2 linked regions of the Homo sapiens genome follow. Changing the gene in region 1 together with any one later gene gives a genetic interaction. Each region holds a gene or a part of one and is shown on either strand. Other genes may lie near its edges.

What was found. A genetic interaction does not mean that the proteins touch.
Region 2: of CALM1 (region 1) and ADD1, changing one suppresses a phenotype caused by changing the other (phenotypic suppression), as found in Homo sapiens cells (one study listed by BioGRID).

What each region holds. Positions count from the first base shown.
Region 1 is NC_000014.9:90,395,219-90,398,818, reverse strand, and holds the start of CALM1 (calmodulin-1), read right to left. Parts: upstream 1,791-3,600; 5' UTR 1,589-1,790; coding exon 1,586-1,588; intron 653-1,585; exon of another isoform or gene 1-652. UniProt on the Homo sapiens protein: Calmodulin acts as part of a calcium signal transduction pathway by mediating the control of a large number of enzymes, ion channels, aquaporins and other proteins through calcium-binding. Calcium-binding is required for the activation of calmodulin.
Region 2 is NC_000004.12:2,902,737-2,906,557, reverse strand, and holds part of ADD1 (alpha-adducin), read right to left. Parts: intron 1,795-3,821; coding exon 1,450-1,794; intron 1-1,449. UniProt on the Homo sapiens protein: Membrane-cytoskeleton-associated protein that promotes the assembly of the spectrin-actin network. Binds to calmodulin.

The sequences.
Region 1 (3,600 bases):
TTCTTTAAATGACGGAGACACGATGATTTACGTAACGCCAAGGCAACATCTGTCTTGTACAACAGGAAGCGCTGCCACACCTCGCAAGAGAAACTGTCACCTTATGGGGAGAACAGTCCCACCTCGCTACAGAACTCTCTTGTTAGAGGGGTTACCAGGAGCATCCAACTTTCTCGACAACGAAAACCTCCTCCCCCAAATGGCGCTAGCCCTGGGGGCAAAGGTGTACCAGAACCCTGCGGGGAACCATCTCCCCACCCGCCAAACCAGAAACGCAGTCGGTGATGTCAGCCCTGCACGCCGAGGAGGAAGGGGCTGTGGAAAACACACCCAGCGAGGCGCACAGTCGCATCTGGCAATCTAGAGGCTGCAGAGAAAGCAGAAACGTGGAGGGCATCTCTCTGCGGACTGGAAGTGGCGCGGGGCGAGGGACCGGGCAGGGCGCGTGCCCGGGGGCAGGCGTGGGGGGGAAGGCGGCCCCCGAGCGGGCGTCTGGACGCCGCCCCTCCTCGGCCAGGAGGGTCACCACCCCCGGCCCCCGCGCACCAGGGCTGAGGCCAAGGCCACCCGCACCTCCCACCCGCTTCTGCTCCCCCAGGCGACGAGCCCGCGGCGCCGCCGCCTCCTCCCGGAGCAGAAACTTTGCGTCTCTAATGGAAACCAAGCCGCGCGCCAGTTCCCTCCTCCCCCGCCGCCCCCCCCCCCCGCCCCAATTAGCGCGAGCCCAGCGCCTCCCGCGGGAAGTGCCTCCTGGTGCACCGAGGCTCACGCCCGCCCGCACTGCTGCACTGGGTGGGGGGCCGCAGGGTGCGAAAGCGGCAGGAACAAGCCACGGCCACACCGCAGGGCCCCGCCCGGGCGCAGGGCGGCCCGGCCGCCGCTTCCGCCCTCTCCGCCCCCAACCCCTCGCCTTCCTGCCCCCAACCCCACCCTTCCCCGGCTCCTTCCTTCCCAGCCCACGCCCGCGCCGCGCCCCCCGGGAAGAAGGAGGGGAGAGCGACCGAGGGAGGGCGCCCAGCAGGGCCGGCCAAAGTGGGGAGGTGGCGGGCGCTGACTGCGCCCCTCAACACCCGGCCGGAACAATGTGCGCCACCGGCCAGCTCCAGCCCATTCATTCTCCACTGCCCGCCCGACCTGCCACCTTCGCGCCGGCGGAGAAGCGGGGTGGGGAGGGGCGGGCCGGGGGGGGGGGTCTAGTGCCCGGCCCCGCCCGGCTCCCAGGCCGAAACGCTGCGCTGCAGGCAGCCCGGGTGCGGCGCTAGTGGATGCAGTGGGTGCGGGGCTGGGCGGGGGGCAGGGGGATTGGATGCAGAAACCCCCGCTGCAGTTGCGGCCGGAGCCCCTGCCCGTGGACGGCCTACGACCAAGTCCAGCTCCAAGGGGAACCAATAAATGAAGCTCCCTGGCAGAGGTCGCCGAGATGCAAATCCAAAATGCAACCTCCTTTAAGCGCAGCTGCTGCGTAACACTCAGAAAAGAAAAACCTCCAAGAACCAAAAACAAACAAAAAACAAACAAAACAACTAGAAATCTGGGAAGAAATCTCGGGCAGCTGCTACGCCGGCATTTGCCACTCCCGACCTACCATGGTGCGAGCGAAGGGAGGAAGAGCAGAGGGAGCGAGGGTGGCTGCACCAGCGCGGGGGCTGCGACGGCGGGGGTACCTCCGATGCCGCTGCTGCTGCTGCTGCTGCTAAGGCGCGCTGTGCGCTATGCCGCCGCCGCCGCCTGCGCCGCCGCCTGACTACGAGTAACGGCACGGCGTCCACGACACTCCCAGCACCACTGCCGGAGCGCGAGTCTGCGCCCCGCGATATATATATGGTGCGCCGTATCCCTCCGCCGCGGCGGAGCCGCCTCGCGCAGAGCGGCGCTGCGGCAGCCGGGCCTTGCCCGCCTGGTCCCGCCCCCGGGTTCGCCAGGCCTCCCGCCGCCCCCTGCGCGCCAGTCGCGGCGGCCCTACGCTGGGTCGGGGAAGCGTTCTAGGCTGGGCGCGCGGTCTCGGGTCAGGTGTGGCGGGGAGTCCTCAGGAGACGCCCACCCTGGGCGGGGGCGAAGACAGAGCGCCTGCTTAGTCCAACCTGGGGGCGGCCCAGAGCTTCGGAAGCCGTTCACTCCGCTACCTACCCCAGCCTCACCCCACCTGGGTGACCCTCCCACCTCAACATCTCCAACCGCTCCACTAGGGCTGCCGGCTCCCGCGTGCCCCTCGTCCTTGGGTCTGCAGCGGCCACTTCCAGTTTGGGGTGCTGCAGGAGGTCCTGAGAGTAGGGGGTCCGCGGGGAGGTGGAGGCAGATTGGCCACACTCCTTCAGCTGCCGAGGAGAGGGGTCTGCAGAGGACGAGGTAGTTGTCCTCCTGGAAGAAATTGGTCCTCTTCGGATTTTGGAGCAGTATCCGAGTCAAATTATTTATGCTCAGTTGCTAAATCTGTGTCATGCTGCGATGTTTAATCAGTCTTTAATGTTTTTACGTTTCCACTGAATATTTTTTAGGATGCCTGAATATTTCTCCCCTACTATTTTGTTCTTTTTCCTGGCGCCCGTCTTACTAAAATTAGTGTACCTGTGCAGCTTCTACAGACCTTAAACCCAGGCTTTAAATTTTTCGTAATTTTCCTGATCCTGAGAAGGGTCAGAGTCTTTATTCATAAATCCATAGAAACAAGGGAAAAAATAGATGCTTCAAATCCTCTGCATTACAAGTGGAACACACAGCCAATTGCCTCTCTTATGGAGCTAGATTGTATTTTAAACTACAGTTTTGATTATATTCCTTTTAAAAGACTATTTAAATCTTTAAATATACTAGTGTTTTCCATTTTTTATTATATTCCTTTTAAAATAATATTTAAATCTTTAAGTTTACTAGTGTTTTCCATTTTTCTGTAAAGTAGAGAAAGAACAATTTCAGCCAGTAATGTGAACCCCAGGACTTGTAAAAATCTAGACAAAATGCTGCAGTTTCTTTTCTTGCCAAGGCAGAACACAGAATTTGATCTTCTGTTTTACAGGGCCCGGGCAACAGTTGGAGGTTATCATTTGCTTACTGTTTCACAGAATATGGCAAAGTGTGTGATTAACATGCTGTGCTAGAAAGGGCTTTGCTTGCTTGTGTTTGTTTCTGCTTTCAACAAAGTCTGCAGGAATATGTTTTTTAAAAAAGGAAAAATGTACAGGCACATTGCAAATGCCACAGGACTTCTTGGGATAACCTTAGACAAGACGTCAGCATCTGTGGAGCTGTTCCTACTGATGTTCCTTCTGGAATGCCGCAGAAAGAGTGAACCTGCTGTTTAATTTAAAGAGAGGCTGCAGCAGCAAGCCAGGGGATGCTGCCTTCCCTCTGCAGATTAGAAAGACACTATTCACTTCACAAACCTGATCCTAATCCCTGCAAAAAAATAATAATAATACTCCTGGGCTCATAGGGGAAAACCTGAGTAGGAATAAAGCGTGCATACTAATGCGAGAGTTGGAGATAAGGAAATAGAAGAAAAGGGACTAATACAAATTAATTTTAAAGAATATGCAATAATCCAGTCAGTTACAAGCCTAAATGGCCAAACTCCTTATTAAAACTGCATCTTGGCCGGGCGCG
Region 2 (3,821 bases), on another chromosome or scaffold:
ATGTACACATTGACTACTAGGCCTAAAGTGACTTAGTTGTTTTGCAAGCTAATGGTAAATAAAGCTCGCGCTGCTGCCTAAACGCTTTGGAAAACTTCCTCATGGCAATTCAGCACTGTGCTTCACATCAGCCGCAGAAAGGTGTTTTGGGGTTTTTTTTTTTTGTTTTATAACGCCCACTTCCTTTAACAAGTGAAACAAGTAAAAAATAAACAAATGAAAGAAAAGGGGAGACAGGAAGAAGGGGGGAAAGAAGACAAGGAGGGCAGGAAAGAAGAGGAGAGACGCACTCCCATGCTCAGAGCCCCATGGCCACACAGGGTCCCTGCCCAGGTGACGCGGCCGCTCAGGAGCACGGAGGCTTCTCACCAACTGCGTCAGGAAAACACCAGGACCACCTGGGGAAGATAAAACTTTTTTTCTTTAAATAAATCTATAAAGTAAAACACTGTTACAAGGGGAAAAGAAAGCCCCACTTTATGTATTTGGTTGCCCATGGTTTTAGGAGCATCTAATCTAATTTCAACTGAACTCCTAATGAACTAGTCATGCACAGATGAGTCTGCTTCAGCCCCTGTCTCCTCCATTCCAGGGGCTTCTGGAAATGGGCCTCTTCTACATACAGTTTAAAGCAGAGCTGGGTGGACTGTTAGAGGTAGGTTACAGGAGGAATAAAGACCCATCTTCAGAGGAGGTCTCAGCACCACGACATGGGAGCACCTCTCAGGACAAACGATAACTTGAGCGGCATTAACGCTGAAACGAAGCACCCCTTGCAGCGTCTGTCGCTGGTGCCTGCAGATGGCCTGCGCTGCACTTGGGTCATGCCGCACCCAACAGGAGTCAGAAGGTGACTCGCCACTATGGCCGTCTACTCACATGCAACAGTCCATGCAGAGGGCAGCTGGGGGTGTGCATTCGGAGGCTTTGGGATAGAAAGCAGGGGAATAACACTAAGGGCAGGGGACAAGAGTCAGCAGAGAACACGCCAGGGAGCCACAAGGGAAAACTGCTTAAGAAAACACTGAAGACTTAAGAAACTTTAGTGACTTGAAACCACTGGAGTTCACAACACTAAAATACAGGTTTAGGACTGAAGTGTCTTTTTGTGCATGAAGTATTAAGAGTCCCTGAATATAATTTGAATTAAATAAGAAGAGCTCCTATTTGTAGGTTAATACATGTAAATTATTGTATATTTTTGCTATATACGGAGATATACTGGAACTACTGCGGAGTTACATTACATCTTAAGCAGTTTCAAGCAGATAGTATTATCCGAATTTTAGTAATGCATTCAGTGGACTTAGGTTCAGACTACAAGAAAGTGAATAAGGAAGGTTCGCTTTACACCTGGGTCAGAAAGGCTGGATTCCCAAAGCCTCCGAAGCCCCAGCTACCCAACTTGCTCTACGTCATCTAACTATGAACAGTAAGGTAGGCACAGACCAAGCAGTTGGTAATACAGCTTGGCACGCAGACACCGGACGAGAGAGACTGCAGCAAGGGTTTCACGTGATCGTGTGTAATGTTCGTCCACACCTTAGTCTTCGACTTGGGACTGCTTCCATTCTGCCCTTCCTCGGAAGCTTCGTCGCCCCGGCCAGAGTTCAGCCATCTTGTCTTCTCCCGCTGCTGCTTCTGAAAACTGTGTCTGAGTGGGGAGCAAGTGCCCGAATCACCGTCACTAGCAAAGGAGTAACCTGTGACACTAGCAGGAACCTCCACATCGCTGTATTTTTTAGACTTCTCTCTCAGAGCAGGGTATCGATAAGGGTAGCCAGTTCTGTAGCCCTAGGGTCCAAGGAGAGTGAAAGACAGTCAATATTCCAGATCTCAAAACAGGGTTTCACTTTGGAAAATCATGTGGAAACATCCACAAAAGTTGAACACATGCATACCCTATGACTCAGTAATTCCACTCCTAATTTTACACCCCACAGAAGCAAATGTGTTCACCAAAAACCAGGTACTAAAATGTGGACAGCAACCCTACTCCTCGTAAACCACAATTGGAAACAACCCAAAAGTCCATCCATATAGGAGATGGATAGTCTAGTGTCTTCATAAGAAGGCTTATAGTGACACAATGTGCTCTAAACCAACCACGTGGATGACTCTCCTGAAGGCAACGCTGAGTGAAAGAGACCAACCTGCAAAGAACATACACCATGTAATACCATTCATTAAAAGTGCAGAAGATGCAAAACAACCTTTGTTTTGGTTGTCCTGGGAGACAGGACAGTTGTCACCCCTGGGATGGGACAAGTGAACTGAAGGAGGTGCTGGGGGTGTTCTGAGGTGCTGCTACCGTTGCTCTTATTGACTGCTGGTTATACAGGGGGTTCAGTTTTTAAAAATGAACAAACTGAACACTTGCGGTAGGTGCACTCTCCTGCTTACATATTTCAACAAAAAATTAAAGTTGAACACCCAAACAGGGTTTACTTGCTGCCAGCCACTGTGCAGGTTATATTCATCAACATACTTAATAGACTTTTACCTCTTAAGTTACAGTTTAAATACTGTGATAATCTTTAGGTAAGTAAGGTAAGTAAGTATACCTCATGACAACTGGTTCTCAGCAAAATTACTTTACGTCTGAATACAACAACATTCAAATTCACCTCCAGCTCTGCCTCATGACCATGTGCTCTGTGGTAAAAGACAGCCCCACTTACTTCATGCCTCTACTGGACCAACTCATCTGCAGAGTCCTCCCACAGACAGCATCTCTAAGGGCATGGACGGTGTCCTCTGCATCTCTCCTGGCCACACTTGGTAAGTGTGACAGACAGACTTCACAGTGGCCCCAGGCCCCCAGCTCCTGTAATCCCCTCCCACCTTGAGCACAGGTGAGATCTCTGACTTGCTTCTAAGTAGCGGAATTCACAAAAGGTGATGATGGGCTGTATCACAGAAGAGTTTAGCACCTATCTTATAAGAGTCTCTGTCTCTACTGCTGGCTCTGAAGAAGTAAAGCTGCCAAGAATGCTTCAGCCCTAAGAAAAGGAATTCTGTCCCCAGTCTAGAAGAGCCTGGATGTGGATCCTCTGAGTCAAGTCTCCTGATGAGAACCCAGCCCTAGCCAACACCCTGAATGCAGCCTTTATGAGACCCTAGGTTGAGTTCGCTGTGCCTGGACTCCTGCCCCACAGAAGCTAGGAAATAAATGGCTGCTGTTCGAAGCCACCAGGCCTGTAGTGATTTGTTGCCCAGCACAGAGAGGTAATACGGGGGATGCTGAAGAGCTGTCTGCTCAACAACCTAACAGATTCGCACCTGAACCAAGTCACTCACAGCACCTTCACAATACATCACAAGAGAATCAGGACTTGGAGGGACTGCACAGGGTCAGACATACAAGACACTTCAGTGGCCTGTGCCCTGCTGGCTGTGGTACTCTAGAAACAGTCCTCTCAATTCAGAATTCTCTCTCCCCTCTGGGTACTGCTCTTTTTTGGGGGCCATCTTCATTACTAATCACTCTTTCAATATTTTTTTTATTTTTTTAATTTAATTTTTTTTTTTTGAGACAGAGTCTCACTCCATTGCCCAGGCTGGAGTGCAGTGGCGCCATCTTGGCTCACTGCAACCTCCGCCTCCCAGGTTCACACTATTCTCCTGCCTCAGCCTCCTGAATAGCTGGGACCACAGGCACGTGCCACCACACCCGGCTAATTTTTTGCATTTTTAGTAGAGACGGAGTTTCACTGTATTAGCCAGGACGGTCTCAATCTCCTGACCTCATGACCCACCTGCCTCAGCCTCCCAAAGTGCTGGGATTATAGATATGAGCCACCACGCCCGGCCTCCTTTTA